Linked DNA regions of Homo sapiens: regions 2 and 3 are each linked to region 1. The links come from fine-mapping of genetic effects on gene expression. A gene starts in region 1. Each other region holds a variant in brackets. All regions are shown on one strand. Distances are between the middles of the regions.

Evidence for each region.
Region 2: its variant is fine-mapped to the expression of MAPK8 in whole blood (INTERVAL, PIP above 0.99).
Region 3: its variant is fine-mapped to the expression of MAPK8 in lymphoblastoid cells (GTEx, PIP 0.98).

What each region holds. Positions count from the first base shown.
Region 1 is chr10:48,301,883-48,310,070 of GRCh38, forward strand. MAPK8 (mitogen-activated protein kinase 8) reads left to right here and starts at 4,795. Exons shown (of 12, transcript NM_001323329.2): 1 at 4,795-4,939. RefSeq lists a silencer at 4,426-5,375.
Region 2 is chr10:48,347,145-48,355,332 of GRCh38, forward strand. All of the region lies in intron 1 of MAPK8 (mitogen-activated protein kinase 8), which reads left to right. Among named protein-coding and RNA genes, the nearest start is that of MAPK8, 45 kb to the left of the region's middle. The variant A/ATTTT (reference allele first, on the strand shown) is at 4,128.
Region 3 is chr10:48,274,577-48,282,764 of GRCh38, forward strand. FRMPD2 (FERM and PDZ domain containing 2) reads right to left here and starts at 120. Exons shown (of 29, transcript NM_001018071.4): 1 at 1-120. RefSeq lists an enhancer at 4,928-5,097. The variant C/T (reference allele first, on the strand shown) is at 4,664.

The DNA.
Region 1 (8,188 bases):
CCAATAATGAAAGTAAGAATAAAGAATGAAAGCACAAAAGCTAATGGAGAGCAAGATGTTCTGTCCAGTTGCTCTGAGGTTTTAAAAAAACAGAAAATACGCCAAATTTCTTAGGGCACTGGCTTTCATTTTTGGCTACAAATTAAAATTACCTGAGGGGATGTGAAAATAGCTACAGAAGCCTGGGCTCCACCCCAGACCACTGGAGAAGGAGCACCAGACATGGAGCCTGGGTGTGGGTAGTGTTTTGTTTTGTTTTGTTTTCCTTGAGACGGAGTCTTGCTCTGTCACCCAGGCTGGAGTGCAGTGGTGTGATCTTGGCTCACTGCAACCTCCACCTCCCAGGTTCAAGTGATTCTCCTGCCTCAGCCTCTTGAGTAGCTGAGATTACAGGCTTGCGCCACCACGACCAGCTAATTTTTGTATTTTTAATAGCGATGGGGCTTCACCATGTTTGTCAGGCTGGTCTTGAACTCCTGACCTTGTGATCCACCTGCCTCGGCCTCCCGAAGTGCTAGGATTACAGCTGTGAGCCACCACGTTCAGCCGGGTGTGGGCAGTTTTAAAGCCCCTCCCCACCCAGGTGATTAAAATGAGCAGGGTGACTTGTGAGTCAGTGTCCTGCTGCTGGGATTCTCAAACTCAAATGGGCATCAGAAATGCCTTGGGGGGGCTCATTAAAACACAGATTGCTGGGCTTCTTCCTCAAGGTTTCTCACTCAGCCGGTCTAAGGTGAGTATGAGAATTTGCATTTTCGACAAGTTCTCAGCTGATGCTGGTCTGGGGAACCACAATTTGAAAACCATCGTCTTAGAGGAATAAATGCTGACCTTTTTTTTTTCCCATGGAAATATGCATGTGTACTCAATCTATAAACTTGACTAGCTTAGTTGGTTCTCTCTTGCATGTACCTGTAAGCAAAAACAGGGTACCACTTGTAACTTCAAATCAGAGTTCTGCCCATTCTGTCTCCACTTCATTTTGTTCAAGTTGCGACTGAGGAGCTCGGGCCATTTTTGGCCCTTTCCTACCCCTGAGGAGCCACAGTTCTTGCAGCTGGAGGATGGATTTACAATACGAACACTCATCTTTCCTCTACTCATGCATCCAGGGTCTGTCTTGCTTTATCGGGAGCCAGCAGGCTCCACCTTGAAAGATTCTCAAAGAACATCCCTGAGTCAGGGACTGACTGACCAAGGTGCTGAACCTCTCCCTCCTGTTGGGGGAAAAGTAGACTTGACTGGAGACATGGGTGGGAGACGAGACTGGGAGGCTTGAAAGCAAGGCTAACAGAGAAGGATGGTGGTGGAGGTGGAGTCAGGGGAGAGGGAGTGTCCTTGGAGATGCCCTTCTGCAGGCTTTAGTTGGTAAGTACCTTCCCACCAACCCAACTCCCCACCCCTGGGGTGAGGTCAGGGAATTAGGAAGTAAGTTGAAGTCTCAGCTTTCAGTTTCTGCACCCTGAACAGCTTGGTGATATTCACCTGACTACCTTAGCCAAAGAAACATCTTCAGTGCAATCCATTGTGTGTGGTCTGGGATGACAAGGGAAGAGATACTCTGGTGGAGTGCAACCTCTTCTTGAACATCCCTCAGGGCTCCAGCAGAGGCTGAGTTTGAAAGGCCTACAGTTCCTCTTCTCTCCTTTCCCCATCCCAGCCTCAGAGGTATCCAAAGACCAGGTGTCCCCAAGACAGCTCCCCTGGGACAAGAGACAAGAAACCTGAATTCACTATATTTTCCTCTTTTTCTGAGTCAGCCCCTTAATAGGTTAACAAGGAACCCTAACAGGTTGACAAGAAAGAATTGCATGAAAAGGAAGAAGAAGGCCCAACACTGCATCTGGGTTACAGAAAAGCATTTTGAATTTGCAGAATATCAGAGATAATTACATTCCATCAGAAATAGCAAAATGCTTTCTGAAATCAATCATACACACACACAAACACACAAACGCACATATGTAAATATGTGGAATGTTCTTTCTAGTTGTAGATAATCAGAAGCTGACCATGGTAGACTGATACTAAGTCAGAAGCTCACTCTGTGGAGTGAGACAGAGGCGGTTATTAACAATAGCATCACAGAACTGGGCGTGAAACTCTGGAGCTCTGCTCCCAGCAACTCCCCTCACTTCACAACAGCTCTAAGGGTTGTATTGTTTTTTGTTACCTCCAGGCCTTTAATTTGTCTGGTGAAGAGTAGGTGGTACCTCTGTCTGTGCACTCAATCACACCCCGTTCTCTCTGGAAACACACGTCTTCCTTCTCTTTTGTGTGTATTCAACCTCTCCCTCTCAACAGTCTTCCCATCAGATGTAAAATATGCTTGTGTCCTACTTCACTGCCCGACTCATCCATATTCACCACCTTTATTTTCTCACCTCCCATTCATTTCCCAGCCCACTCTAATTCACTTCTGGTTCTATTACTCCAGGATTCCAAGCCTCCTCTTATGTTTAATATTATTGATCAGCCCTTTCTTCTTGAACACCTCTCTCCTGGTTATCCTTCTATCTCCCTGGCAGCTCATCACAGACTCATCTTCCCCTTTGTGGCCCTTTAACACTGAAGTTCCCCAAGCCTGGTTGCAGGCCCTCTCCTCAGGCCTAGGCTGACCCATCTATCCCAAGGCTTCAAGGAATCACTCACTGTCAATGATTCGTCTCTTAACTAGCTGAACCTCAGCTCTGTATATCCAACCACCAACTTAACATCAGTTTTGGGCATCTCAAAAGCCTTCAAACAGCCAAACAGCCTGCTCTCATGATATTTTAATGCCAGTCTGGTCCTTTTCCAAGATTCCCATCTTGGTAAACCAGCACTAACATCCATCCTTGGCCACAAGCCAGAAACCTTTGAGTTTTCCTTGATGACTCCCTCTCCTTCATTGCCCCACATAACCCATCACTTGGAGAATGTGCAAGTTCTGCCCGTTGGACCTCCTAAATAATTCACAGATCTTTCCATGTCCATCAACTATTTCCATGACCATCACCCTAGATCAAGCTTCCACCTCTTACCGTCTAGGCTACTCCTACATCCACCTGGGCTCTTTCCAATAAGGAATCTTTTCAAGAAGCTATTCTGACCATGCCACACCCTTTGCTGAATATGTCAGGGGCTTCCCATTGCACTTAGGATAAAAAGATTTTCAACATGGCCAATATGGATGTCCTACGTTTGGTCCCTTTACCAATCTTCCTGACTTCATCTCATAGCTCCTTCTTCCTTGCTCCTCCAGCAGAGCTGGCCTTTCCTGAATTTCTCCATCTTATCCTGCTTAATCTCATCAGAGGACCTTTGCGTGCAAAGCTACCTCTAAAATATTCTCTGTCTAGTCAAACCTATTCCCAGCTCAAGTGACAGTTCCTCAGGGAAATCTTTTCTGGCCTTATTAACTAGTGTATTAATTGGTTTCATAGTATTATGTATCCTTAACAATTTGTATTATAAAACAGTGATAATTTTGCGTTTACTATTATTACTTTCATAGTACAGTGATTAAATCTGTAAACTCTACTGTATTGCCTGGCACTGAATGGGCATGCAATAAATAATTATTGCAGGAACAAAGGATGGCAGGAAGGAAATTAAGAAGGTTGAGAGGGAGGGAGAGAGGAAATGGGAAGAGAATGAATGAATAATCATCTGTATGTTCCCTTTCAGAATCACCAGAAACAGGCCAGCCCCACATGTAATAGGAAAGTAGTTTACCTGAAATCATTCATTTATTCAACAAATATTTATATATTCATTATTAAAGTAACTTACTTGTTTCTGATTGTGAACATAACTATTCCTCTCGGAAAACATGAGAAAATACCCAAAGTATAAACGAGAACCAAGTCACCCTTTATTCCATAGTCCAATGATGAACCATTGTTAACATAATTTGGTGTATTTCTTTCCAGGTTTTTTCTATGTGTATATATAGTATCTAAGTGGGACCATTCTATATATGACTTGTTTCTTGCTTCTTTCTCTTAATGATACATTGTGAACATGTTCCTATGTTGTTAAGAATTCCTTGAACACATGGCATTTAAATTGCTAAAATGTATTCTACCGAATGGTGTAGGTAGTTCAAACGCCTTTCCACCCGTTGTTGGATATTTAAAGGACTTGTCAATTTATCGCTTCTGTAACATTTACACGCTTTGTGGGGCCTCAGAAGTAAACCAGGTAATGCAAGGAATCTGGGAAGAGGTGGATTTGCAAGGAATCTCGGAGGAGGTGGATTTTGGAAAAACTGGAGGCAGCTTTTCCCGGGCAGCTGAAGAGAACACTTATCTCTCTGTAGGTTTCTGGGACCCGGACAGGTGTCCTCAGAATGGAACATATTGTCGGTCAAGGTAACCAGCTCTTCATCACTCAGGTGTGTGTACCGGAAGGGGGTGCCTGTTCGCTGCGCAGGTTAGGCCTAAGCGCACCTGCCCTTCAACCCTGTGCCGACGAGGCCCGAAGGCTTAAGCTCTGACCTGGCTACCGCCGCCAACCAGATGCGGTCCCCTGGGGCCACGCGCCGCCACGTGCCGCCACAGGGCCCGCCCCTCCCGCTCCAGGCCACGCCCCTCACCCACAGCCCTCGGAGGCTCTCTCCGCGGCTCCGCCTCCAAGCGACCTCCGCAAGTCCTCTCGTAACCCCTGGAGTAGCGCCGTCCCCGGGCGGCGGCCCCGCCCCCGCAATCCGGGCCCCGGGGCTGCCCCGCCCCGCCGGCCGCTCGGGAGGCGCGGGGGCGGGGCCCTGCGCGATGACGTGCGCGGGCGTGCGCGGTGACGGCCCGCGTCTCTGTTACTCAGCCGAGCGGCCGAGGCCGGACGACGCGGCTTGGATTGCGGAGCCGCGAGCAGCGCTGGGTAACGGCCGCGGCGACCACCCCGGACGGCCCCTGTCCCCGCTGGCGGGCTTCCCTGTCGCCGTTCGCTGCGCTGCCGGGTGAGTGCGGCGGACGCCGCAGGGCCGGGACGGCAGGCGGCCCCGTCGTGTTTATGTTATTGTGCCGCTGCCGCCGCCGCCGCCTTCTCCTCAGCCGTAACCCCCTCCTGGGAGTGGGGGCGGGAGCGCGCGGTGGGCGGGGGCGGCGCGGGAACAATAGCGGCGCGGAGGCGGGGGCCAGCCGAGGGGGCGTGGGGCTGCGGGACCTGGGTGCGCTCCGCTGCCCGCCAGCCCGCCTGCCGCCGCGAGCCCCGCCCGCCTGTCCTCTCGCGTCCTCTTCGCGTGGGTCCTGCCTCCGCGGCGGGAGAAGAAAATGGAGCGGGGGGGTGGGTGGCAAGTTCTGAAACACTTCGGCAAGGGTCGGACGGAGGTGTCTTTGCGGCCCGCCGCGCCCTGGCTGCCTCCGGGGCGGCGGGGAGCCGGGGAGAGCGCTTCTGCCGGCAGGTCCCCAAGCCTGCCCCGCGCCCATAGGGACCGTATTTTGCTTCTCGATGCTTTCTTTGTGCTAACGTTCTGGGCGAACGCAGGCAGCAGCGCTGAAAAGGGCCAGAGTGGCCTGCAGCTCTGGGCTGCAGGGCAGAGAGCCCAGGCCCGTGGCTCGGGTGGGAGGTGTCCATCCAGCTTGGCCCGAGCTTCGGTGGTCAGCGCGCATTTCTCTTGAGGGTCATCGGTGGTGACCTTTTGACTTTTTCACCCCACCCTCCCATCTCTTTGTCTCGCATTTGTGTTCCCGATTCAGAGATGGTAGAACCAAGTCCATTTTAAAGTACCCTGATGAACACTTTCCGTTTTTATTTCTGAAAGTTCCCTGCTTGGTCTTTACTGCGAATTTAATAACATGTTGACTACATGGCATTGTCCAGTGATTACTATTTTTACCTCTGAAATCCAGCGATCTTTCCAGTAGAATTCTGGTCCGTCAGTCCATTGTGTTTTGAGATAAGCATCCAGCAAGTACCTCCTTGGCAATTAGAACATCTGTTTTTTCATTCATTCATTCATTCAGCAGCTGTTTAGTACCGTACTCAGATGAAGAGGTTTGGTGTGAAGGTAAAGTATCCTTTCATGGAAGAGGATGCTTTGACTGAAGTATAATAGATGGACCTTTAAATGAGACAGTTACATAAGTGATGTCTGTTAAGGAAGGTATGGTTATATTCTGGGTCATTTTTTAAGCAGTATATCTGGAAGTTCAAGTGTAATAGGAAGTAGAATTAGATTTGGTCTAAATATACAACAGCTTTTATTTATTTCTAAATTTTATTTTTTCCAGTCTTGCAGCCTTACAGTCATTTGTAATGGTTACCTCAGATTCCCCTGCTGTGGTTAACGTTAAACCTAGGAGGTCAGATGCTCTAAGTGAACATGTTTAGTGCTGTGCCTGACAAAAGCAAGCAATCAAAATGGGACTTCCTTGAGGGCAGGCCTGTCTTGCATCTGTTTCTCCACCACCTAGCCTGGAATATAGTAAGTGTTCAATAAAAGTCGGATTGATGAAAAGCTCTTTGTAATTGATAATATTTAAAATCAAGCCTTAAAAAAAACCGTAATGTTCTCCATAAAGTTTTGGAAGCTTCATGCAACTGTCGCATCAGATGGCTAAATGGTCAGTTCATGTACATTATCTGTTATGATGACATGGGCTTTTGAATCACGTGTAGGTCATTCACTGTCCTAAAATAAAATCTTGTCTAAATATTTTTTTAATATGATAAATAAAGTAGGTTGTGGAGTGTGTGTTTCTGTGTATGTGCTAGTTTATGTGTGTCCGTGTGTGTGCATGTACGTAATCCACACACAGGCACTCATAAACTGGTATTTCAGTAGGGGTCTAAAATGATTGCATTTATAATTTTGTGAATATTATTTGAAAGTTTTTTGGTGACTCTTATTGTGGAAAATTGAGGACAAAACCACATAAATGTTTTATTAGAAATATTTCTAATATTTTAGAAATGTTTACTTGAAATGTTTGGTTTTAAGTTCTAACTTGTATTAACACAATTGGTACAAAATATGAGCCTAAAACTCAAAATAATTGATTTATCGAAGTTAAAGCTCTTTTCCACTTACTAAATACAGTTTAGCGTTTGTTTTGTATTTGAAAGAATATGAAATGAGTTAACTAATGAGTTTCTTATTATTTGCTGTAAAGTGGAAATGAAGAAATAAGAAAATAATACTTTTTTAAGATGATGGTTGAAAATCTTTGAGATACCAAAGTTTTATTGCTTTACCTAGTTAGGGTATGTCAGATTCTAGTAGGGGTTACTGACAATCCTTTGGCAGTAGCTCACAGGCTGTGTAAAGAACCAGAGTTGTGTTACTTTGTTTTCCAAATTGTTGGTTTTTAAAAATAGCTTTATTGCAATTTAATTGACATAAAATTCACCAGTTAGAGTGTATATATTTCGGTTTTTAGTATTTTCACAGTGTTGTGCCTTGATCACCATCACTAATTCCAGAACATTGTCATCACCCCAAGAAGAAACACCATATCCATTAGCAGTCACTCTGAATTTCACTTCAAATTATCCTTTAAAGTAAGAGATATAGCATCGATTCTGTTAGTAAATATATTCCTTTAGTAAGTATGAAAAGGGCTCCTTTTAAATGTCCTGTCCTGGCAGAATAGGAAACTATATCCTTCATACTCCTTTAGATCCTGGGGGAAATGCCATTTGGAAAGGAAGTCAGTGCAAGAATAAATTGTATACAAATTAATGTGGTTATAATCTTAACTATTTGCTCCATGCCTGATATTATCAAAGTGACCTTGTGAGGATGAGATGTTCAGTGAAACAACTTGAAGGAATTTGTTGTTAAATGACTAGTCCCCAACTATCCTAGTGCTAAGAGGTTGTTGAATAGGAGCCTGCTTCTTGTTGGTCTGCTTTGCCAGCGGGTTGAATTTTGACATATTTCAGTCATCTACATGGTTGAGATGCTTTGTTGCACGAGTGGAAATACAAAATAATGTCTGACATTAGGATTCCAGTGCTCTAGAGGTCTCTGGTCAAGTCAATGGTATGGGTAGTAGCTTTTCTGATTCATGTGGTCCAAGGAAGTCATTATAACCACATAGCTTTATATATGAATCATTTGCCTATGTCAGTGAACTGTGATGCTGATTGTCTTAATCATGAGCTCTTTACCTGAACATTTAGAAGCCTTGCATTCTTACTCTTAATGCAGGTTAAGTTGAACTTTGATTTCAGAAGTGAGTTGACTGAAAGGTAACAGGAGTAT
Region 2 (8,188 bases), 45 kb after region 1:
CCTACAAAAGCCTAGTGAGAAACCTGCACTTCCACCCCCCACTAGGCATTTTTTCCACCAGAGCAATGTCAAAGGAAGCTTACTATAATGGAATATTAAAAGTAGATCCAGTCACCTAATGTAATAACCCAAATATCCAGGTTTCAATGAAAAAAACCTCTCATACCAAGAAGCAGGAAAGTGTCAGCTCAAATTAGAAAAGACAGTTAATACATGCTGACACTGAAATAACACAGATACTAGAATTATTTGACAAGAATTTTTTTATTGTACTTTAAGTTTTGGGATACATGTGCAGAATGTGCAGGTTTGTTACATAGGTATACACGTGGCATGGTGGTTTGCTGCACCCATCATCCCGTCATCTACATTAGGTATTTCTCCTAATGCTATCTCTGCCCTAGCTCCCCACCCCGCAACAGGCCCCGGTGTGTGATGTTCCCCTCCCTGTGTCCATGTGTTCTCATTGTTCACCTCCCACATAAGAGTGAGAACATGTGGTGGTTGGTTTTCTATTCCTATGTTAGTTTGCTGAGAATGATGGTTTCCAGATTCATCCATGTCCCTGCAAAGGACATGAACTCATCCTTTTTGATGGCTGCATAGTATTCTATGGTATATATGTGCCACTTTTTATTTATCCAGTCTGTCATTGATGGGCATTTGGGTTGGTTCCCAGTCTTTGCTGTTGTGAACAGTGCTGCAGTAAACATACATGTGCATGTGGCTTTATAGTAGAATGATTTATAAGCCTTTGGGTATATACCCAGTAATGGGATTGCTGGGTCAAATGGTGTTTCTGGTTCTACATCCTTGAGGAATCGCCAACTGTCTTCCACAATAGTTGAACTAATTTACACTCCCACTAACAGTGTAAAAGTGTTCCTATTTCTCCACATCCTCTCCAGCATCTGTTGTTTCCTGACTTTAATGTTCGCCATTCTAACTGGCGTGAAATGGTATCTTGTGGTTTTGATTTGCATTTCTCTAATGACCAGTGATGATGAGCTTTTCTTCATGTGTTTGTTGGCTGCATAAATGTCTTCTTTTGAGAAGTGTCTGTTCATATGTTTCACCCACTTTTTGATGGGGTTGTTTTTTCTTGTAAATTTGTTTAAGTTCTTTGTAGATTCTGGATATTAGCCCTTTGTCAGATGGATAGATTGCAAAAATTTTCTCCCGTTCTGTAGGTTGTCTATTCACTCTGATGATAGTTTCTTTTGCTTTGCAGAAGCTCTTTAGTTTAATTAGATCCCATTTGTCAATTTTGGTTTTTGTTGCCATTGCTTTTGGTGTTTTAGTCATGAAATCTTTGCCCATGCCTATGTCCTCAATGGTATTGCCTAGGTTTTCTTCTAGGATTTTTATGTGTTATGTCTTACATTTAAGTCTTTAATCCATCCTGAGTTAATTTTTGTATAAGGTGTAAGGAAGGGGTCCAGTTTCAGTTTTCTGCATATGACTAGCCAGTTTTCCCAACACCATTTGTTAAGTAGGGAATCCTTTCCCCATTGCTTGCTTTTGTCAGGTTTGTCAAAGATCAGATCGTTGTAGATGTGTGGTGTTATTTCTGAGGCCTCTGTTCTGTTCCATTGGTCTATATATCTGTTTTGGTACCAGTACCATGCTGTTTTGGTTACTGTAGCTTTGTAGTATAGTTTGAAGTCAGGTAGTGTGATGCCTCGAGCTTTGTTCTTTCTGCTTAGGATTGTCTTGGCTATACGGGCTCTTTTTTGGGCATGTGCAAAGACACTCATAGGCTCAAAATAAAGGGATGGAGGAATATTTACCAAGCAAATGGAAAGCAAAAAAAAAAAAAAGCAGGGGTTGCGATTCTAGTCTCTGATAAAACAGACTTTAAACCAACAAAGATAAAAAGACAAAGAAGGGCATTATATAATGGTAAAGGGATCAATGCAACAAGAAGAGCTAACTCTCCTAAATATATATGCACCCAATACAGAAGCACCCAGATTCATAAAGCAAGTTCTTAGAGACCTACAAAGAGACTTAGACCCCCGTACAATAATAGTGGGCGACTTAATACCCAACTGTCAATATCAGACAGATCGAGACAGAAAATTAACAAGGATATCCAGGAGTTGAACTCAGCTCTGGACCAAGCGGACCTAATAGACATCGATAGAACTCTCCACCCCAAATCAACAGAATATACACTCTTCTCAGCACCACATCACACTTATTCTAAAATTGACCACATAATTGGAAGTAAAACACTCCTCAGCAAATGCAAAAGAGCAGAAATCATAACAGTCTCTCAGACCACAGTGCAAACAAATTAGAACTCAGGATTAAGAAACTCGCTCAAAACCACACAACTACATGGAAACCGAACAACTTGCTCCTGAATGACTACTGGGTAAATAATGAAATTAAGGCAGAAGTAAATAAGTTCTTTGAAACCAATGAGAACAAAGACACAATGTATCAGAATCTCTGGGACACAGCTAAAGCAGTGTTTAGAAGGAAATTTATAGCACTAAATGCCCACAGGAGAAAGCAGGAAAGATCTAAAATCGACACCCTAACATCACAATTAAAAGAACTAGAGAAGCAAGACGAAACAAGTTCAAAAGCTAGCAGAAGACAAGAAATAACTAAGATCAGAGCAGAACTGAAGGAGATACAGACACGGAAAACCCCTCAAAAAATCAGTGAATCCAGGAGCTGGTTGTTTGAAAAGATTAACAAAATAGACTGCTAGTCAGACTAATAAAGAAGAAAAGATAAAAGAATCAAATAGACAAAATAAAAAATGATAAAGGTGATATCACCACTGATCCCACAGAAATACAAACTACCGTCAGAGAATACTATAAACACCTCTATGCAAATAAACTAGAAAATCTAGAAGAAATGGGGAAATTCCTGGACACATATAGCCTCCCAAGACTAAACCAGGAAAAAGTTGAATCCCTGAATAGACCAATAACAAGTTCTGAAATTGAGGCAGTACTTAATAGCCTGCTAACCAAAAAAAAGCCCAGGACCAGACGGATTCACAGCCGAATTCTACCAGAGGTACAAAGAGGAGCTGGTACCATTCCTTCTGAAACTACTCCAAACAATAGAAAAAGAGAGACTTCTCCGTAACTCATTTTATGAGGCCAGCATTATCCTGATACCAAAACCTGGCAGAGACACAACAAAAAAAGAAAATTTCAGGCCAATATCCCTGATGAACATTGATGCGAAAATCCTCAGTAAAATCCTGGCAAACCAAATCCAGCAGCACATCAAAAAGCTTATCCACCATGATCAAGTCTGCTTCATCCCTGGGATGCAAGGCTGTTTCAACAGATGCAAATCAATAAACATAATCCATCACATAAATAGAACCAATGACAAAAACCACATGATTATCTCAATAGATGCAGAAAAGGCCTTTGACAAAATTCAATAGCCCCTCATGCTAAAAACTCAACAAACTAAGTATTGATGGAACTTATCTCAAAATAGTAAAAGCTGTTTATGACAAACCCACAGCCAATATCATACTGAATGGGCAAAAGCTAGAAGCATTCCCTTTGAAAACCAGCACAAGGCAAGGATGTCCTCTCTCACTACTCCTATTCAATATAGTATTGGAAGTTCTGGCCAGGGCAATCAGGCAAGAGAAATAAATAAGGGTTATTCAAATAGGAAGATAGGAAGTCAAATTGTCTCTGTTTGCAGATGACATGGTTGTATATTTAGAAAACCCCATCGTCTCAGCCCAAAATCTCCTTAAGCTGATAAGCAACATCAGCAAAGTCTTAGCATACAAAATCAATGTGCAAAAATCACAAGCATTCCCATACACCAGTAATAGACAAACAGAGAACCAAATCATGAGTGAACTCCCATTCACAATTGGTACAAAGAGAATAAAATACCTAGGAATACATCTTACAAGGGATGTGAAGGACCTCTTCAAGGAGAACTGCCAGCCACTGCTCAAGGAAGTAAGAGGGGACACAGACAAATGGAAAAACATTCCATGCTTATGGATAGAAGAATCAATATCATGAAAATGACCATACTGCTCTAAGTAATTTATAGATTCAATGCTATCCCCATCAAGCCACCATTGACTTTCTTCACAGAATTAGAAAAAATAACTTTGA[A/ATTTT]TTTTTTTTTTTTTTTTTTGAGACAGAGTCTCACTCTGTCACCCAGGCTGGAGTGCAGTGGCATGTGATCATAGCTCACAGCAATCTCAAACTCCTGGGCTTGAATGATTGTCCCGCCTCAGCCTCCTGAGGTCTCGCTATGGTGCCCAGGCTGGTCTCAAACTGCTGGGCTAAGCGATCCTCCTGCCTTAGCCTCCCAAAGTGTTGGGATTGTACCCATGAGTCATGGCACCTCGCCCTGACACAAATTTTAAAGGAGTCATCAAGACAGTGCTTCAACAAGCAGTTATGAACATGCTTGAAATAAATTAAAAAAAAAGGAAGTTTTCAGCATAGCAAATAAATAGGTAAAGAAAAACCAATTGGAAACTTTATAACTGAAAAATACAGTAACCAAAATAAAATCTTAATGGGTAAAACTGTAGCAAAACTGACACAAAAAAAAGAAGACACAAATCATCAGGAGTAAAATAAGAGATACAGGTTGAGTATCCTTCATCTGAGATGCTTGGGTCCAAAAATGTTTCGGATTTCAGATTTTTTCAGATTTTAGAATATTTGCATTGGTTGAGCATCCCGAATTCAAAAACCCAAAATCTAAAAATGCTCCAGTGAGCATTTGCTTTGAGTGTCTTGTTGGTACTCTTAAAGTTTCAGATTTTGGAGCATTTCGGATTTCAGATTATCAGATTTGGGATGCTCCACCACTCTGGAGCCTGTGGACATGAAAAGGATACTATTTTTAAAAATCTACAGAAATAAATTTGACAACTTTGATGAAATAAACTAAGTTTTCAGAAAGTACAACATACTGCAAGTCACTCAGTATGGCATAGATAATTTGAATAGTGCTACAACTTAATAGAACTTTATAATTTTAAAATGAAAATAGGCCCGAATGATTTCATTGGAGAATTCTAGCAAAGGCTTAAAGAAGAATTTACACTATTTCTGTGTAGTCTCTGCCAGAAAATAAGGGAATACTTCCTAATTCATTTATGAAATCAGTATTATTTTGCTACCAAAAGCAAAGACAATACCAAAAAAAAAAACCTACCAATAAAGACCAACTCCTTTTTAAGTATAGATGTAGATAATCCTTAACAAAATGTTAATCAGTATAATCCAACGGTATATAAATAGAATTAAACACAATGACCAAGTGGACTTTATTTTGGGAATGCAAGATTGATTCAACATTTGAAAATCTGTCAATGTAATCTATCAATGTAACCATATTAACAGGATCATGAAGAAAATATATCAAATGCTATAGAAGCATTTGACAAAATTCAATACCATTTATGATTAAAACTCTTAGAAAACTAGGAATAGAAGCAAACTTCCTCAACTGGATAAAGAATATTTATAGAAAATAAACAGCATCATACCTGATGAAAGACTGAATGCTTTCCCCTTATGATTGGAAACAAGGTGACAAGGATGCACACACTCACAACTCTTATTCAACAAAATATTGGGAGTTCCACCCAGCACAGTAAAACAAGCGGGGGGAAAGCCCTGACAATTGGAAAAGGAGAAATGAAACACCTTCCTTTTCGCCTGTGACGTGATCATCTGTTTAGAAAATCCTAAGTAATCTACAAAAAATCTGTGGAACTAATAATGTAGCAGGATCACAAGATACATTTAAAAAGCAATTGAATTTCTCTACACTAGCAATGAACGTGTGAAAACCATAATTAAAAGTGAAATACTATTTGGAATTGCTAAAAAAAAAGTGAAATACCTAGATATCAGTCTAACAAGACATGCATAGGACTTGTTGGATGAAAACTATTAAATGTTGATGAAAGAAATCAAAGACCCAAATGAATGGAAAGACATACTGTGCTCATAGATTGGAAGACTCAGCATGTTATAAATGACTATTTTCCTAAAATAGATGTAATACAAGTTTAACAAAATTTCAGCAGGTTCTTTTTGTAAATATAGACAAAATTTTTCTACGATTTATATGAAAAGACAGAAGAACCAGAGTAGCTAGTTTTTCATACAGTTTTGAAAAAGATAAGGTGGGAGGAAACACTCTATACTCAATTTCGACTTATAAAGATAGCATAATCAAGACAGTGTAGTATTGGCAGACAGATAGACACATAGGTCAGTGGAACAGACTAGAAACCCAGAAATAGCTCCACACAAGTAAAGCCAATTGATTTTGACAGACGTACAAAAGAGACTCAGTGGAGGAAAGTGGCCTGTTCAAATGGTACTGGCACAGTTGGATAGCCATAGGCAACAAAATAAACCTTGACCTAAACCTTGTGCAAAAATTAACTGCAAGTGGATCATAGATTCTAAATGTAAACCCTACAACCATAAAACTTAAAACATGGAAAAAAAAATCTCTGGGACATTTGTGATTCATTTGTATCATGGAATCCTACTCAGCAATAAGAAGGGAATGTGATGTATATGCAACTAATCAGAACTCTTAAAGACATTATGCTGAGTGAAGAAAAGTCAGCTCGAAAAGTCACATATGTATGACTGCATTTATAGAACATTCTTGAAATGACAAAATTATAGACATGGAGGACAAATAACAGATTAGTTGTTGCCAGGGATTAGGGATGGGGTTATGGGAACAGAGAGGGAAGTGAATGTGACTATAAAGCAGGTAGTCTTTGTGGCGATGGAACAGTTTTGTATCTTGATTGTGATTGGTGGTAGTGACACAAATCTGCACCTGTGATAAAGCGATACATAGCTATACACACACACTGTACTAATGTCAGTTTCCTAGTTTTGATTTTATATTATAGTAAGATGTAACCATGGGAGAAACTGGGTGCAGGGTACAGGGGACCTCTTTTGCTATCTTTGGAACTTCCTTTGAATCTAAAATTATTTCAAAATTAAAAAAAAATTTTTTTAAATTATCCTAGCTAAAGCATCAAGTGAAAGTTCTTAAGAGAAAAAAAGAAAACAAGGGAAGGGAAGGTACAGGATGTCTGGGAAATTGTCTGTGACATTTAAACTGGTTTTTGCCCAGGGGGCATTTGCCAAATCTGGTTTCCTTTCCTCAGCATCAGAGAGCATTGAGGAACCTGAGGAAATAATAAGGTCTTTCTTTCTGGGATGATGAATCTGATACGTTCTTCCTCTTCACCTTAAAGCTGAGACTCAGCTAAACTGGAAACCACCACCAATCCCACCATCCTTCAAGATTGCAGGGAAAGTTGATTTTCTGCATGCTTCTTAGTTTTTAATGTGCATCAGAATCACATGGAGGACTTGTTAAAACAAAGATTGCTGGGCAACATCCCCAGAGTGTAAGATTCAGTAGGTCTGGGGTGAGACTTTTAAAATTTGTACCTCTAATAAGTTTCCAGATGATAGTGATTTTGCTGGTCGGGAACCACACTGCAAAAATTATTTGTATAGCTAAAACCTTGTCGGAGTGAATATGGGGGCAAGATCACTGCTGAGAATTTTAAGCAACCAGCTGACCCTTGTATAATTTGCAGTGCGAATTTAACGCTGTGTAGGTGATCTAAAAAAAAAACAGAAAAAGAATTCCCTAAGATAATTTATCCCCATAATGGCAGTATACATAGACTGGCAGTGAGTATCCCCAGACTCTTGTAGAAGCTAACAGAAATTCTCTTTGGAGAAACTCATCTCCATCCCAGAGTTGAAAGTTTTCCTAGAAATAAAATTCTAAGTAAGTAGAACAACTGTGATAGTCAAAAAGAAAAACATAAAGAAACTAAGCACTGTGAGCAGGACTCAACAGCAGACCTGCTGGAAAATAGGAATAGGCAGCTACAGAATATGAAGTAAGTGTTTCATATGTTTCAACAAAAGTTGAAAATATGTTCCAAGATTCAGAAACTATAAAGACTATTCAAAGAGATTTTTTAAAAATAGCTAGAATTTATACAATTGAAAATTATAGTAGTTGAAACTTTATTAAAAGTCCTCAATAGGGCTGGGCGTGGTGGCTCACGCCTGTAATCCCAGCACTTTGGGAGGCCGAGGTGGGCGGATCACGAGGTCAGGAGATCAAGACCATCCTGGCTAACACGGCGAAA
Region 3 (8,188 bases), 27 kb before region 1:
TCCGTGACCAGGTCTAGGCCTTCATCATGGGACAACTTTCCAACAAGGAGCAGGGGTCTCTTGCAAGTCTGTCCGCGGAGCTCCCTGCCACCAGCACTGTTGCCGCTGTCTTTGTTTACTGCTTGTCACTAAGCACTTGCTGCCCAGCGAGTGAGTCAACAAGGCCCCTTCCCTTTCCTGCCACCACTCTCATTCCCTGGGTCCTGCGCAGTCTCTGGCCTGTTAGCAGGCACTGCCACCCCAGCAGCCTGCGTCCTCAAAGCCAGTGACCCGTGAGAGAGCCAGGAAGAGCTCAAGTGGATTAGGTGCCACTGAAGGCAATGGGATTGCTGCTCAGCAGGGCTTTTACGCTGATGTCTCTTTATCTCCTGGCCCAATCAAAAGAAAGAGCTCTGCAAGGAACTGGGGGCAGCCCCAGAGCAGAGGCTTAGTGTCATCAACTCAAGAGTCCTCCATGCCCTTTCATAGTGTCAGACATTGGACCTGCAACCAACAGGACAGGGAACCATGTGAAAGCAGCAGGAGGAAATGATAACCTGGATCTGTCTGTGAGAAAGCAAGAAAAATGTGGTTAGAGAAAGGGGGAAAGGAATTCTTACTCTTTCTGGTGCTTGGATTCAGAAAGGAACCAGCAGAGATGGGGAACAGCAAGAAGTAGATCATAGCTCTGTAGTAGAAGGGGCAAAAGAACAGATCTCTCAAGCCCTTTAAATCAATAGCAGTGTCAAAACTGAGACGTATTTATTTAAAAAGAAAACATGAGTTTTTGCCTGACTACAGAATAAAATACTAAAATTTGAGGCCGGGCACAGTGGCTCATGCCTGTAATCCCAGCACTTTGGGAGGCCAAGGCGGGCAGATCACGAGGTCAGGAGATCGAGACCATCCTGGCTAACATGGCAAAACCCCGTCTCTACTAAAAATACAAAAAATTAGCTGGGCCTGGAGGCGGGTGCCTGTAGTCCCAGCTACTCCGGAGGCTGAGGCAGAAGAATGGCGTGAACCTGGGAGGCGGAGCTTGCAGTGAGCCAAGATCGGGCCACTGCACTCCAGCCTGGGTGACAGAGCGAGACTCTGTCTCGAAAAAAAAATCTGATGAAACTCAGTGCTGGTGAGGGCATGGAGAATGAGTACTCTCATATGCCAATAGTGAGATTACAGATAAGTGCAACTTCTCTGCAGGGAATTTGGTAATATTCATCAAATTTGTAAATGTACATATCCTTTGTAAACCCAGCTGCTAAGAAGTAACCCCATGGACATTCTTGCAAAAGTTCACCAAAGCATCTGAGAAAGGATGCTCTTTGCAGTGTATTTTGGTAGTAGCAGAAAACTGAAAGCCACTGAAGTGCCCATCAACAGTGATTATTGTAGTTCACACACAGTAGAAAACCAGCTATGCAGCTGTGTAAAGGAAGGAAGTAGATCTGTGTGTGCTGGCATATAACAATTGCCTAGAAAATTCTTTAAGTGACAAAAGGTATGGAATAGCCTAGTATGTTTCCTTTTATTACAAATAGGTACATAAAGACCAGGTATATTTACGTATATTTATGTATACATATTCTTTATACACTGTAGTATATTAGAATATTATGTAGACATATTCTTGTGGTTCTGGAAGGAATCACAAGCAACTTAATAGTGGTTGCTAGGGGAAAGAGTTTTGGCTCATTATTTAGTCAGGAAAATTATTGTTCATTTTGGTATTTTCCCCCTATAACCTTATGTTATATTACTTGAAAAAAACTAAAAAACACAATGTTTTACATTTTTTTCTGCTTAAAGCTATCTATATTGACATTCCCTGCTAGCTAGCAAAACATTTCACAATATCTGCAACAATCTTTTACTGTTTTTTCCAAACTTGTCTTCTCATCAGATTCAGCCTTGAAGACGATAAAATGCAGATTCCCAGGCACCACCCTGAATCTGCTGAACCTGAATCTCTGGGCCCGAGCCAGAGCATCTGTATTTTCAGCAAGTGTCCAGGTAATTTTTATTTAGTAATTTTTTCAGGCTGACCACGCAACCTTTCTCCCAGAAGAAGAAAGTTGACTTCTCCAGTCATGTGGCTCGTTCACAACAGAACAAAAAGCAACACCTAAGTCATCTGCCAACAGGTAAATGCTGGTCTGCTTAAAGTCACCACCACTTTCACTTTTTCTGTTAAAAATACTAGCAGTAACCCCCTTCTATTGTTGCTCTGCTAACATTTCATTAAGTCCATTTTTTTGCATAAAAATTTTATCAATGTGTTTTTGTTTTTCAAGTTATCAAAGCTAATAGTTTCTCTCTGAGTTATCTCTGTGTCATTCCCTATATAATTTTGTTATATTTTATATATTTTTATTTTTTAAGGTTATTTTCCTGTCAAAATTCTTTATTGCGTATGATCATTTAAAAAAAAAACTTTATTTTAGGTTCGAGAGTACATGTGAAGTTTTGTTACAGAGGTAAACTCATGTCATGGGGGTTTGTTGTACAGATTATTTCATCACCCAGATATTAAGCCCAGTACCCAGTAGTTATTGGTTCTCTGTCTACTCACACCCCCCCAACCCTCAGGTAGACCCCAGTGTCTGTTGTTTCCTTCTTTGTGCTCATAGTTCTCACGATCCAGCTCCCACTTATAAGTGAGAACATACTGTATTTCATTTTCTGTACATGAATTAGTTTGCTAAGAATAATAGCCTCCAGCTCCATCCATGTTCCCATGAAAAACATGATCTCATTCTTTTTTATGGCTGCATAGTATTCCATGGAGTATGTATACCACATTTTCTTTATCCAATTTGTCATTGATGGGCATTTACATTGATGCCATGTCTTTGCTATTGTGAATAGTGCTGCCATGAACATAAATGTCCATGTGTCTTTATAATAGAACAATTTATATTCCTTTGGGTATATACCCAGTAATGGGATTGCTGGGTAAAATGGTATTTCTGTCTCTAGGTCTTTGAGAAATTGCCACACTGTCTTCCACAATGGTTGAATGAATTTACATTCCCACCAACAGTGTATAAGTGTTCCCTGTTATTTGCAACCTTGCCAACATCTGTTTCTTTATACATATTTTATTAATAGCCATTCTGACTGGTGTGAGATGGTATCTCATTGTGGATTTGATTTGCATTTCTCTCATTATCAATGGTGTTGAGCTTTTTTCATACACTTGTTGGCCGCATGTATGTCTTCTTTTAAGAAGTTTCTGTTCATGTCCTTTGCCCACTTTTTAATAGGGTCGTTTGTTTTTCTCTCGTAAATTTGTTTAAGTTCCTTATAGATGCTGGATATTAGACTTTTGTCAGATGCATATTTTGCAAATATTTTCTCCCATTCTGTAGGTTGTCTGTTTACTCTGTTGATAATTTCTTTTGCTGTGCAGAAGTTCTTAAGTTTAATTAGATCGCACTGTCAATTTTTCCTTTTGTTGTGATTGCTTTTGGTGTCTTTGTCATGAAATCTTTGCCAGTTCCTATGTCCTGAATGGTATTGATTGCCTAGGTTGTCTGCCAGTGTTTTTATAGTTTCTGGTTTTACATTAAGTCCTTAATCCATCTTGAGTTAATTTTGTATATGGTGTAAGGAAGGGGTCCAGTTTTAATATTCTGCATGTGGCTAGCCAGTTATCTCAGCACCATTTATTGAACAGGGAGTCTTTTCCTCATTGCTTGTTTTTGTCAGCTTTGTTGAAGATTCACATGGTTGTAAGTGTACAGCCTTATTTCTGGGCTTTCCATTCTGTTCCATTGGTCTATGTTCCTGTTTTTGTACCAGCATCATGCTGTTTAGGTTACTGTAGCCCTGTAGTATAGTTTGAAGTTGGGTAACTCAATGTCTCCAGCTCTGTTCTTTTTGCTTCAGATTGCCTTGGCTACTCAGGCTGTTTTTTGGTTCCATATGAATTTTAAGATAGTTTTCTTCTAGTTCTGTGAAGAATATTGTTGGTAGTTTGATGGAAATAGCTTTGAATCTGTAAATAGCTTTGGGCAGTAAGGCCATTTTAATGACTTTGATTCTTCCTATCCATGAGCATGGGATGTTTTTCCATTTGTTAGTGTCTTGTCTGATTTCTCTGAGTAGTGTTTTGTAATTCTCATTGTAGCAATCCTTCACCTCCCTGGTTAGCTGTATTCCTAGGTATTTTATTCTTTTTATGGCAATTGTGAATGGGATTGCCTTTCTGATTTGACTCTCGGCGTGGCTGTTGTTGGCATATAGGAATGCTAGTGATTTTTTTGTACATTGATTTTGTATCCTGAAACTTTGCTGAAGTTGTTTATCAGCTGAAGGAGGTTTTAGGCTGATCGAAATCTTTGAGTTTATATATTTTTTAATTTAATTGCTTCACTTTCAAAAACTGTGTTTACTCCTATTTATAGAGAGTTCTGGAAAGTGAGGTATATAATCAAGTGAAATTCAATAATAAATCCGATTGCCAGTTGTGCCCTTTTGTTTTCCAGAGAAACAGAACCAATTGGATATTTATTTATAAGGAATTGTCTCATGTGATTATGGTGGCTGAGAACCTCACAATCTGCCATCTGCAAGCTGGAGACCCAGGAAAGCAGATGAGATAGTTTCACTCTGAGTCTAAAGGCCTGAGAAACATGGTAAGTCCCAGTCAAAGAGCAGAAGACCAATGGCCCAGTGCAGT[C/T]AGCCAGAGAGAGAGAGAGCAAATTCTCACTTCCTCTGCTTTTGTGTTCTGTTCAAGCCTTCAACAGACTGGGTGATGCCCACCTACATTAGGGAGAGGAGTCTCCTTTACTTAGTCCACCAACTCACAGGCTAATCTCACTGGGAAACAACCTTACAGGTACACTGTATTCATCCATTTTCATGCTGCTGATAAAGACATACCTGAGACTGGGCAATTTACAAAAGAAAGGTTTACTTGGACTTACAGTTCCATGTGGCTGGGGAAGCCTCACAATCATGGTGGAAGGCAAAGAGGAGCAAGTCACATCTTACATAAATAGCAGCAAGCAAAGACAGAGAGCTTGTGCAGGGGAATTCCTTTTTTTAAAACCATCAGATCTCATGAGACTTAGTCACTATCATGAGAACAGCATGAGAAAGACTTGCACCCATGATTCAATTACCTCCTACCGGGTCCCTTCGACAATATGTGGGAATTCAAGATGAGATCTGGGTGGGGACACAGCCAAACCATATCATCCCAACCTGGCCCGTCCAAAATCTCACATCCTCACATTTCAAAGCCAATCATGCCTTCCCAACAGTCCCTCAAAGTCTTAACTCATTTCAGCATTAACCCAAAAGCCCACAGCCCAAAGTCTCATCTGAGACAAGGCAAGTCTCTTCCACTTATGAGCCTGTAAAATCAAAAACAAGTTAGTTACTTCCTAGATACAGTGGGGGTACAGGCATTGTGTAAATACTGCCATTCCAAATGGGAGAAATCGGCCAAAACAAAGGTTCTACAGGCCCCATACAAGTCTGAAATCCAGTGGGGCAGTCAAATCTTAAAGCTCCAAAATGATCTCCTTTGACTCCATGTCTCATATCCAGGTCACGCTGATGCAAGAGGTAGGTTCCCATAGTCTTGGGCAGCTCCACCCCAAGACTTTGCAGGTGTGGCTTTGCAGGGTACAGCCTCCCTCCCAGCTGCCTTCACGGGCTGGTGTTGAGTGTCTGCATCTTTTCCATGCACACAGTGCAAGCTATCATTGGATCTACCATCCTGGAGTCTGGAGGATTGTTGCCCTCTTCTCACAGCTCAACTAGGCAGTGCCCCAGTAGGAACTCTGTATGGGGACTCCGATCCCACATTCCCCTTCCACACTGCCTTAGCAGAGGTTCTCCATGAGAGCCCTGCCCCTGCAGCAAACTTCTGCCTGGGCATCCAGGCATTTCCAAGCATCTTCTGAAATCTAGGCAGAGGTTCCCATACCTCAATTCTTGACTTTTGTGCACTCGCAGGCTCAACACCATGTGGAAGCTGCCAAGACTTGAGGCTTGCACCCTCTGAAGCCATGGCCTGAGCTTGACACTGGCTCCTTTCAGCTACAGCTGGAGTGGCTGGGACACAGGGCACCAAGTCCCTAGGCTGCACACAGCACGGGGACCCTGGGCCTGGCCCACAAAAACACCTTTTCCTCCTAGACCTCCAGCCCTGTGATGAGAGGGACTGTCACAAAGGTCTCTGACATGCCCTGGAGATATTTTCCTCATTGTCTTGGTGATTAACATTCAGCTCCTCGTTACTTGAAAAAAATTTTTTATTTTTATTTTTTACACTTTAAGTTCTAGGATACATGTGCAGAACATGCAGGTTTTTTACATAGGTATACATGTGTCATGGTGGTTTGCTGCACTCATCAACCCATCATCTAGGTTTTAAGCCCTGCATGCATTAGGTATTTCTCCTAATGCTATTACTCCCCTTGCCCCCCACCCTCCAACATGCCCAGGTGTGTGATATTCCCCTCCCTGTGTCTATGTGTTCTCATTGTTCAACTCCCACTTATGAGTGAGAACATGCAGTATTTGGTTTTCTGTTCCTGTGTTAGTTTGCTGAGAATGATGGTTTCCAGCTTCATCCTTGTTACTTTTGCAAATTTCTGTAGCCGGCTTCAATTTCTCCTCAGAAAATGGGTTTTTCTTTTCTATCACATTGTCAGACTGCAAATTATTTGAATGTTTATGCTCTGCTTCCCTTATAAAACTGAATGCCTTTAACAGCACCCAAGTCACCTCTTGAATGCTTTGCTGCTTAGAAATTTCTTCCACCAGATACCCTAAATCATTGCTCTCAAGTTCAAAGTTCCAAAAATCTCCTCCAATTTGGGGCATATGGGGTACCAATTTGGGGGGTACCAGAGCAGGGGCAGAATGCCGCCATTCTCTTTGCTAAAACATAACAAGAGTCACCTTTGCTCCAGTTCTCAAAAAGTTTCTCATCTCCATCTGAGACCACCTCAGTCTGGATCTTATTGTCCATATCAATATCAGGCTTCTGGTCAAAGCCATTCAACAAGTCTCTAAGAAGTTCCAAACTTTCCCACATTTTGCTGTCTTCTTCTGAGCCCTCCAAACTATTCGAACCTCTGCCTGTTACCCAGTTCCAAAGTTGATGCCACATTTTTGGGTATCTTTTCAGCAGCACCCTACTCTACTGGTACCAAATTACTCTATTAGTCCATTTTCATGCTGCTGATAAAGACATACTCGAGACTGGGCAATTTACAACAGAAAGAGGTTTAATTGAACTTACAGTTCCATGTAGCTGGGGAAGCCTCGCAATCATGGCAGAAGGCAAGGAGGAGCAAGTCACATCTTACATGGATGGCAGCAGGCAAAGATAGAGAGCTTGTTCAGAGGAACTCCTCTTTTTAAAACCATCAGCTATCATGAGACTTATTCACTATCAGGAGAACAGCATGAGAAAGACTTGAACCCATGATTCAGTTACCTCCCACCGAGTCCCTCCCACAACATGTGGGAATTCGAGATGAGATTTGGGTGAGAACACAGCCAAAAAATATCATACACCCAGAATAACATTTAACCACGTATCTGGGCAACCCATGGCCCAATGAAATTGACACATAAAATTAGTCATCACAATTCTACCCTGTGTCTACTTGACTGTGATTTAAAGACAAATAGTATATCTGTAAAGTGTGTATCACACTTAATTTCCAAATAAAGACAAGAAAATAACAAGGGCATTATTTCACCTAACATGTTACAATTATCCTGCATACAACAAAAAAAAGTAATAACCCTTTCCCCATAAGAGAGGTAAATCCTTGAATGATGTTTACTTCTCCTCTTGATATATTGTAACTTAAATACTTGATGTAAAATTATCAATACTTAAATACTATGATATAAAGTCAATATATATTATGTTACAGATAAAGAAATAAGAAAGGAAAGAAAACAAATATTATATACACACACAAAAATATATTCATAACAAAATAAGGAGGAAATATTCATGATAATTACAGTCCTCATTTCTGTAACTGTTTACATGGTCGTTGCTGGTGTTTATAACTATTTTCTTCCACTACTCATTCTGTATTCCCTTTGCTTTCAGCATATATCACAGATGACCATGGTTCTTTACTTGGTGGAGTGACCTAAACCTTCATTCCTGAAGTATCTGAGCCATTGGTAGCTCCTGTCTGAACTGGGTTGTTGTAGTTTTCCA